Linked DNA regions of Homo sapiens: region 2 is reported to be linked to region 1. Evidence: microRNA targets listed by miRTarBase, many of them from high-throughput screens and not tested one by one. Region 1 holds a microRNA gene; the other region holds the end of a gene's coding sequence.
What was found. Region 1 holds the annotated microRNA hsa-miR-4466 (GGGUGCGGGCCGGCGGGG, at 1,714-1,731, shown strand). A microRNA usually pairs through its seed, bases 2 to 8, with sites in the 3' UTR of a target mRNA and lowers its output. Matches are read on the target gene's strand: a 7mer-m8 pairs with bases 2 to 8, a 7mer-A1 pairs with bases 2 to 7 and ends in A, and an 8mer does both.

Region 2: the mRNA of WDR17 is a reported target of hsa-miR-4466. Seed matches in the 3' UTR shown: 7mer-A1 at 1,914-1,920.

The regions. Positions count from the first base shown.
Region 1 is chr6:156,776,366-156,781,440 of GRCh38, reverse strand. It overlaps MIR4466 (microRNA 4466), which reads left to right and starts at 1,710; the gene lies at 1,710-1,763. It overlaps ARID1B (AT-rich interaction domain 1B), which reads right to left and starts at 4,063. Exons shown (of 20, transcript NM_001374828.1): 1 at 1,970-4,063. The coding sequence starts at 3,760. LOC115308161 (a long non-coding RNA gene) reads left to right here and starts at 2,923. Exons shown (of 2, transcript NR_163974.1): 1 at 2,923-3,195; 2 at 4,010-5,075. RefSeq lists silencers at 1,580-1,749, 1,780-2,469, 2,540-2,589, 2,810-3,039, 3,290-3,359 and 3 more and an enhancer at 2,311-2,846.
Region 2 is chr4:176,178,750-176,183,823 of GRCh38, forward strand. It overlaps WDR17 (WD repeat domain 17), which reads left to right. Exons shown (of 29, transcript NM_181265.4): 29 at 711-4,066. The coding sequence ends at 830. Among named protein-coding and RNA genes, the nearest start is that of SPATA4, 14 kb to the right of the region's middle.

The DNA.
Region 1 (5,075 bases):
TTTTTAAACTTTCATAGCATTAACATGAAAGAAAAATTATTTGGAAAAAAAGACACCCAGCACAACTTGCTTAGAATATAGTTTCCCTAATTCATCGTGTAAGCAGTTCAAACAAGGCTCAAATTACCTAATCTAACAAAACAATGAAGAAAAAAAAAAGATTATGGGGCATTTCTGTATTCTCCACATCAAAAGCAAATATGAAATGATTCTTAGTATTTCACAGGAATATCTCATTTTTCCCCTTTTAATTATTGTTATCTGCACAAATATGTGGTTTCCTCATTTCGTTTTTTAAATATGTCAATTCTAACCAAAACTCCTCATCCACAAATATCTTTGAACAGTCAGAACTGATAAATCACAAAAAAATGAAGCTTAAATCTTGTTTATCAGGTGAATTACACATCACCAAAATATATTGCTGCCTATCAAAATCTTAAAAAAATTTTAAGGTTTTATTAAGCTGCGTGTGCTGACAGAATTCAAATTTTTCCATAGTTGAATTTGTAAAGGGAAGACTTTTATAAAGGCTTTACAAATCCAAAAATTGGTAAAATTCGTGGTTTACTTATTTTTCAATGGCCTTATCCTCAGCCTCCAATTAAAGTCTATGATATATGTAATGTGCATATTCTAAGACTATCATCAAAGATCTGAATTTTGTAAATGCCCAATACTGGACACCAGCGAACTGTTTTTCTGTATTTGATCCTCTTATTAATAACTATGATTCATAATAGTTTCAGCTTTAAATACTGAACCTTACATTTGCTTGTAATAGAGCTCAGTTATTATTTGTGGCAAGAATTTTTGTGACTGTACTGCTCAGCACTTCTATTTACATCAGCAGTGCTAAATGCCCAATGGTGAGAGGGGAGCCAATCAGATGGCAGATTAGATGTCAACTCAGAGGCAGCTGTCTGGAGACTATTACAGCCAGTTTACCTCCACAATTCAAATTCCAAACCTTGCAAAGGAGATCAAGTCAGTCTTTAGGCTCAGCCTACTAGCAAGAAACAGCAAGAGTGCAGGACACTTCCTAACAGCGCTGTAGGACTCGGGTGACAGCAAAATAAAGAAAATCCAAATAAATACGATCCCAAAAGATCAATTTTCACTGGTCTGCTATCTTACTGGATTTGCTGAATAAAATGCATGCCTAATCCATGATCAAAATAAGTTCAATTGATCCGGAACGTGCTCCTTTCACATAGCCTGCCTGTTGAAGGTGACTCCCTGCAAGCAGCCCGTAAGCCCAATAATGGATTTCCCTGGCTATTCTAAGGAACGAATCGATGTATTTTACAATATTGCACCTCCATGTCGTTGTAAATTTTGTTATTATTCCTACCAGCAAACGTTCGAGCTCGAAGCCCGCACCGAGTGTCTCTGAATGGCTCTCCCTAAGTAGGAAAAACCCACTCGCTTGTCACAAAGCTAACCTATTTTCCCTGCCTGGACCTCGGAAGCCAAGAGGGAACGTGCTGTGGCTAAAGGTGTGAGAAAGTTCCTCATTCTTTCCCCCGTTAAAGCACATTGTGGGCGCTCCCAGAACCGATCGGGTGGCTCTTCGCCCCAGCCGTCCTGGCCGGGAGAGCCTATTTGTTACAAAAGCACCCGAACGGTCCCCGCCGCCCCAAACGGCGACCGCGCGGGTGGCGCCTCGGGATCTCGCTTCGCGTTCCCGGGCCTGGGGGAGGGGGGGGACGCGGGTGCGGGCCGGCGGGGTAGAAGCCACCCGGCCCGGCCCGGCCCGGCGAAGCCCTCCCAGGCCTGGACAGCGCGCCGGCCCCCGGGGCGCCCCGACCGCGGCGGGAGGCGGCCGCCCGTCAAGATGGCTTTGGGCGCCGCGCCCCCGCCGCCCCCGCGGGAAGACGGGGAAAAGTACGCGGCAAAGAAAGAAACTCAGGCTCGCGGCGCGGCGAGGCCGCCGGGCGGAAGCAGGCCCGGCTGGCGCGAGGGTTACCTGGGATCTGCCCATGGTCGGTCCGGGGGTGCCGGGGCTCATCGCCGGGTGACTCCTTTGTTGCGCGGCCGCCCAGGCCGGGCTGGCAGCGGCGTACTGGGCGCCCATGTCCTTGCCCAAGCCCATGCCCGCGGCCGCCTGCTGGCCGCCCGCCGCCGCCCCCGCCGCCGCCGCCTGGGACTGGGGCTGCGACGGCGGCGGCGGCGGCGCGCTGGGGCTGCTGTACTCGGGGTAGCTGCCGCCGTAGCTCCGCATCATGGGGCTGGGCGAGGTGAGCAGCTGATTGAGGGTCGGGGTGGCCCCCGACGGGTGCTGGTTCTGGCCGGCGAAGCGCTGGAAGCCCCCCGCCGCCGAGCCGGCGGCCGCCTTGCTGAGGCTCGCGGCCCCGCCGCCCCCGGGGCCCATCATCATGCCGCCGCCCTGCTGCCGGGGGGAGCTCAGCACCCCGTACCCCGCGGACGAGCCCCCATAGCCGCCGCCGCCGCCGCCTCCTGCTGCTGCCGCCGCCGCCGCGGCCGCCGCCGCCACAGCTCCCGCTCCTGCTCCTCCTGCTCCTGCTCCTCCTCCTCCTCCTCCTCCTCCGCTGCCTCCTCCTCCTCCGCCGCCGCCGCCGCCGCCGCCGCCCGCGCCGGGCCGGCTGTAGCCCGGATAATGGTTGCACTGGCTGTTGGGGTACCCTTCGTGGGAGTTCTGCAGGGGGTCCATGCTGCCGGGGGCCCCGGCGGCGGCGGCGGAGGCGGAGTGCATCATCCCCATCCCGGGGCTTTGTTGTCCGCCATGTTGATCAAAGCAAGGCCCAGCGCGGCCGCCGGGGCCGCCGCTCGCAGGGGCAGCGCTGCCATAGTAATTATTAAACTCCGGGACGGCCGCCGGGCCGCCGCCGCCCCCGGGCACGGCGACCGGCGGCTGCTGCGTGCCCAGGGCGCCCAAGCCCGGGTGCTCGTAGCGGCCGCCCGCCGGCTCCCCCATCTTGGGCGGCGCGTCGTCCTCGTCGCCCGGCTTGCTCAGCAGCGGCGGGCCCGGGGGGTCGGCCTGGCCGCCCGCAGCACTGTCCTTGGCGCCTCCATGTTGCGGCTGCTCCATGTCGGGGCCGGGCTGAGGCGCGCCGCCGCCCGCGCCGCCCAAGCTGTTGTTGTTGGAAATGGGATGTTGCTGTTGCTGCTGCTGCTGCTGCTGCTGTTGCTGCTGCTGCTGCTGCTGCTGGAACTGGTTTAGCTGCTGCTGTAGTGCGTGGTGGTGGTGGAGGTGGTGGGCATGGTGGTGGTGGTGGTGGGCATGGTGGTGGTGGTGGTGCTGCTGGTGGGGCGGCGCGGCGGGGGCTTCGCCAACGGTTTTCAGTTTGTGGTTGGGGAGCAGCCCCGTCTCCATGGCCGAGCCCGGGCCCGACGAGGAGGAAGAGGATGCCGCCGCTGCCGCCGCGGAGGAGGAGGAGGAGGAGGACAGCGCGGCGGCGCTTCCACCCTCCTTGAGAGCCGCCTCGGAGCCGCCGCTCTTGGCGCTGTGGGTGCCGGCGGCGGCCGCGGCGCCCGCGTTATGGGCCATGTTGAGTTCGTGACGGGGGAGCAGGGGGTGGTGGTGCACACTGTTCAGGCCGCCGCCGCCGTCGCCGCCGCCCCCCAGCATGGGTCCCGGTGCCGCCGCCGCCGCCGCCGCGCCGCGCGCCCCCGCCTCCAGGTCCCGGGCTCCGGGCGCCGGCCGCGGCCCGGGGGGCGCCCGCCGTTCGCCGCTGCCTGCCCGCGCCCGCGCCCGCGCCGCCGCCGCCGCCGCCGCCGCTGCTGCCCGCGCGGCCATGATCGCCGCGGCGTGGCGAGGCCGGGCGGGGGGCGGGGGGAGACAATAACCCCCACTTTTCAGGCCGCGGCCCCTCCTGTGCGCATCCACGCGGCCCGCCGGGAAGCCGCGACCCCCTCCCCCTCCGCAGGCCCCGCCGGAGCGCCGGGCCGGGCACGCCTTACGCTCTGGGCCTGCTCCTGCTGTGTGCTTTCATGGTGAAAGTTTTTAGTTCAGGTTTAAATGAAACTTTTCTCTTTTCCTCTCTAGCCCGGATATGGGTAAATACACGACTAGCTGAGCCTATCGGGCCCAGCATGGCTTGAGAGGCAGCGGGCGAGCTCGAGCAACTATTATCCACTTCGCTCGCATTACTCCCGCGCACTCGCAAAACGCGGACTGGACTCGTCCCCGGGCCGCCGCCGCCCGCCCCGGCGCAGCCTCGCGGGACCCAGCCGGGCTTGGGCTAAGGCTGGGGCCGGGGCCGGGGCCGGGGCGGCTCGGCGGCCGCTCGGAGCGCGGCGGCGTGGGGCGGCCGGAACCTGCACTTTCCCCCCGGGCCGCTGTCTCCTTGCCAACCGGGCGTTCGCATGTTTGTTTTCACGTCTAAAAGGAACGATACAAAGGTGGAAAACGAGTCTGACGAGCAGACAAAAGAGGGAGAAGGGCTGGGAAACAAAGTTGTCTATTGGCCTCAGAGGTTACAAGGAGCCGACGGAGAAAGAAAATATTTAGGCAATCTGCAAAAGCACGGTCTCTCCCAGGAGTTATGTAATTTTCAGAACGTTCGCCTCTGCCTTGATTTCGGGCCATCGGCGTAATTCCCACAACTTCTTCCAACTGCAAAATTAGGAAAGATTTGAAATGAAGGTTAGCCCCGGTCAGAGAGCCCTATGGCCTGTACCCAGTAGGTACTCAATAAATGCTTATGACTGACTGCACCCGCCCCAAAGAGAATGTTTACATAACTCTTTTTGAAGGCACCTTAAACACGTATGTAGGTTTGTCAGTGTATTTCCAAAGGAATATGTCCACGTATTCCCAAAGGAGCATTTTTCTTACATGCACTTGGATGTCCTCTGTGGAGTATGTACAGTGGTGTTTTCTGCGCCAACTTTCACATGAACATTTAACTCTTGGTGCCAGAACAGCGACAGCTATGGGTTAGCTCGTATCTTCATAAATCTATATGACACCTTTCATCATGTTTCAGAGCTTCGTGTGCACAGTTAACCCTCTCGATATACATTCATTTCAAAGAGATGTGGAACGAAACTAAAATATTATAGACATTATATTTAATAAATATAACTTCAATAATAATATAAAACAGTCA
Region 2 (5,074 bases), not on the chromosome of region 1:
TTGTATCATTTGAAATCAGACCCCAAACTCAACAGCTTTAGAACCTAATTAAGAAAACATAATTTGTATTGCATCTTGTGTTTTTGAAATTATGCTTTTCCTTATCAGAGCTAGGTAATATAGACTGAAAACATTTCACATTTAGTTCTTTATAACTACCCTGGCATATATCATAACTGATGCAACTAAATTATAAATAAGCAAGAAAATCACATGGCTAAACATATTTTAAACGATATATACAATATAGAACAATATTCATCATCTTCTGGAGAGCACATATAAAGTTTCTGGCTTAAATAATTTCCCCAGCTGTATCGACATAGGCTACATGAGTAAAATAGTGAAATATATTTAAGCCTATTACTAGACATATATGCTTTTATAGAATAGGTAAACTTTGTGGCAGTTACCAGATTAACAAAACATATTTGTCATTGGCATTACTATTGTATTTAAAGAATTTAAATTGTAAACAATTCTATTTTAACAGATATTAGGGTATAATGACATAATGTTAAGACATTTGAAAATGTTTCTATATTTGGGTCCAGCTCAAAAAAACTAATTTTCTCATAGTCTTCATTTTTTTATTAGCTTTGCCTAAATATTATGTTTTTTTTTATTGCAGTGATTCTCTTTCTGAAAGTTTAAAAATACTTTGCAAATTTATAATCTCATCTTCTCTTTCCTCAACTCTCACTGTGCAGGGCCCTGTGTTTTTCCTTGAAGACGGGAAATCTGCTATCTCCTTGAATGATGCTTTGATGTGGGCAAAGGTGAATCCATTCTCACCTTTAGGGACTGGAATACGACTCAATCCATTCTGATAGAAGATTTTTGTCCATGCTTGATTTTTTTTTTTAAAGAAAAACTTTCATGGGTTAGCATTACCTTAATCTTTGTTGCTCAAGTGCCAGAGGTTGGGAGAAGGATTGCAGGTTGGGAGAGGTGGGAAATAGCAGTGAATTTTAGTCATTAACTTCAAAATATATATATATATATAATTTAAAGGAAAAATAGGTGCCTCCTTTATAAACAGTAATAGCTACGTTTGGGAAGGAGGAAACATTTAAATTATAAAGGACTGAATAATCTAAAAAGCATATAAAAGTTTCACACAGCATAAAAGATACCAAAATATCATATGGTTGAAATATTGAAACATATTAAATTGTGCAACACCTAGAATAGTGCTAGACATACAGTAAGTACTTAATGGATATTTGAATGATTGAATATCTTGAAATGTTGAAATGTAAGGTGTGCACAGTGATCTTCAACTTAACAAACACTTACGTTCTCCTTTATAAAATGCATAGTAAACCACTAACGTTAGCTGTTTTAATAAAAGTTTTCAGTTATAAGTTTAGTAAATATTAATAAATGGATACACATTCAAAATACTTTTAAAAAAAAGAAAATGTTACCAGTTTTTTTATCTGAAGTTTAACTGTCCCATTGTAAAGGTGTAAGTTATATAGGCTTGAAAAAAATTGGCGGGTAAAAATCACAAAATGCAGTCGAATATATATATGAAAACTTGCATTAGGTGATAAAGTGACTATTTTAAGAGATTCAGCATGCATGGATATTAGTTTTGATTAATGTGTACAATAATTTACACAGTATACTCTAGTCAATTTATGTTAACTTTATTTAAAACACAATTTATTTGGCCGGGCACGGTGGCTCACACCTGTAATCTCAGCACTTTGGCAGGCCAAGGCAGGTGGATCACCTGAGGTCAGGAGTTCATGACCAGCCTGGCCAGCATGGTAAAACCCTGTCTCCACTAAAAATACAAAAATTAGCCAGGCATGGTGGCGGGCACCTGTAATCCCAGTTACTTGGGAAGCTGAGGCAGGAGAATCCCTTGAACCTGGGAGGCAGAGGTTCCAGTGAGCCAAGATCGCACCACTGCACTCCAGCCTGGGCAACAAAGAGCGAAACTCTGTCTCAAAAAACAAACCAACAAAAACCACAATTGATTTGATGAAAATTAGTTTTAAGTAAATGTTTGTAAATAGATATTGGTTGAATTTTTGGATATATTATGTTGATTTAACTTTTAAAATGTTGTTTAAAAGTGTGAAGCTATGAAAAGCCTGATAATGTGACTACAGATATTTCAGTTGGACTAGAATTCTGACTTTGAAACTTATTAAATTAATGCATACTGGAAGTACTTTGATACTCAAGTTGTTTCACAAGATTTATAATATAGATGGTTTTGTTTGACTAAAGAATAATCTCATATAACTAGAATACTTGTGGCTTTTATTATCTTTAAACTTGTTGCATTTAAAATATTTTTAAAACCTTCTTAACAAAACTTCTTAAAACTGGAAAAAATATATATTATGTATCTATGTATCATATTTATCACATGACCACTTTTGATTCCTTAAAAAGACATTACAGGCTTAAATTCCATTTTATTAAAAAAAAAAAATTGCCTGTAATCCCAGCACTTCAGGAGGCCGAGATGGGCAGATCTTGAGGTCGGTAGATGGAGACCATCCTGGCCAACATGGTGAAACCCTGTCTCTACTAAAAATACAAAAATTAGCTGGGTGTGGTGGTGTGTACCTGTAGTCCCAGCTACCCAGGAAGCTAAGGCAGGAGAATCGCTTGAATCCAGGAGGCGGAGGTTGCAGTGAGCTGAGATCGCACTACTGCACTCCAGCCTGGGCGACAGAGCAAGACCACCATCTCCAAAAATTATATATATAAAAATAATTAATATTATAGAAGAGAATATACACAACTCAGAGATGCAATGGATAATATAAAAAGAGTACCTGAGATGTATTTTTTTAAACTCTTAGAGATATCTGTAACTCAAATTTTTCTTAGGTGAGGAGGATTATTAACTGGCACATATGTACTAAAAACCCCTCACTTAAAAATGGCAGTCTCAATCCTACTGTCATTCTTTTTATTTTAAAATAAATAAATAAGCCTATCTTTTTGTGCTTACATACTTAAAAGGATATCATTAAGTATATAAACAATCATTACTTCTGTATTTTTAATGAATGCAGGAAAATAATATTTTTATGTATAAAAGATGAAGAAAAAATTTTGCAAGTCTTTAAGCACATAAATACAACAGAATAGCCACCCAATTTCTGTCTGAAATCTAAATTGGATGGATTTGACCATCATTCTATTATCTTTGATTTCTACAATGTCTATATCTTATTACCTATAACTATTAATTTTTCATAGAATTATAAATGTCATTTGACTATGTCAATCTGTATATATTGTACCTTAATATGAAAAACAAATTTTTTAATTCATAAAAGTATTTTTATTAGATTTCATATGCATGAAACCCAAGCAAATTATATGAATTTATTTTACTATTTGAAAATGTTCATATTACCAATAATGTGGACAAATTACTTTGCAGGTTTAAATATGCCTCTGTAAAGGAAGAGTCTCATTAGACAATGATTTTTAAAGCATTGGAAAAATATTTTGCCTGTAAAAGTTAGTAACTAGGTGGTTCACAAAATTACAACATCAAAATAGTTACATCTTGTGAAAATATATGATTTTTATGTCAATCAAGACAAATGAAATATATATGTATGTGTATATATATACATGTATGTATGAAATATATATATGTGCGTGTGTGTGTGTATATATATATATATATATATATATTTCTATGAAATTGTCCAGATGTGTTCAGGAACATGATTGCATTAGAGCAATGACTGTATTTTGTTGTCCTTATAACATTTATATTATTTCAGTTTTAAGTCAAAAGGTATTCTGAATATAATAAAAGCCTCACAAATTATTTGTAAAATTTAGTAGTTCATATTTAGTATATCAGTAATATAGAAGACATCTTTATAGTCAACTCTTAATTAATGCTTATTGTACCAAATCTTTGAGATATTTGTACATAAATGAAATATGTACTTTCATGCTAAAATTATATATCATGACTGTGCTATAATTTGGCATGTCATTATCTAGATTTATATGTATGTACGTATTTCAGGTCCTTGAAATTTTAATAAATATTACAGTTAAATCCTGATATGACATAGTTACCGGCTAAGATGAGTAGTTGTTTCTTTCCCGAGACACCATTGAAAGACAAGTGTTTCTCCATAAATGCTTGGATCAGAGTCATCAGAGGTGTGAAAGGGCTAAGCTGTCCAACTGAGTTGTTACCCTACTCAGTAACCTAGGAAAATCACTTCATTGAATTGTTCCAGAGGCTGATTCTTCACTATAGAAACACTGACTACAGTATACCCCAAAATTACTATAAAAATGGAGAAAGTGCTTACTCATTAATACAAATGCTATGTCATAGTAGCTTCTATTCCCATAAGCTACTCGGGAGGCTGAGGCAGGAGAATAGCGTGAACCCGGGAGGCGGAGCTTGCAGTGAGCTGAGATTGCGCCACTGCACTCCAGCCTGGGCAACAGAGCAAGACTAGGTCTCAAAAACCAAAAATAAAAACAAAACAAAACAAAAAAGAAAATGTTTTATTCCTATAGCAGCTGCTATAGCTCCTAGAAAATTTCATTGCTTCCTTCTGTCAAAGATTCTTTTTGAAGTAAATGGTCTAAGATATGCCTGTAGTGTTGGCTTCTGTTGCACAATTCATCCTCAAGAAACTCTTGAGGTTACCCACTTTGACCATCCTGTATCTTCATTTACATAATCACTATGTAATGAAGCCTACAGACTATTTCCTATTTTCCAGTCTCTATAGGTCCCTCAGGATTCTTGGGAACTTACCATAGTCGGGCCATGAGTGATGAGCTCTTTCAGGAGATTGAACACAGCACCAGGAGGACAAAGAAACTTATTATTTGACTCTACCCAAAATTAATCCTCTTCTCTGGATCTTTTTCATGGCTGAGCTTCAGAGACTTGTTTCTCAAACCTTTTCCAAAGGAACTATATAGGTTAAAAGTTATTCTCATAATTTTGTACTTTAGATTGTCCCATGAGAGTGCAAGACAACAGATACATTACTTATAGCTGATTAAGATATGCATTTGACCTAGATCTCTTACCTCAGATAAAACT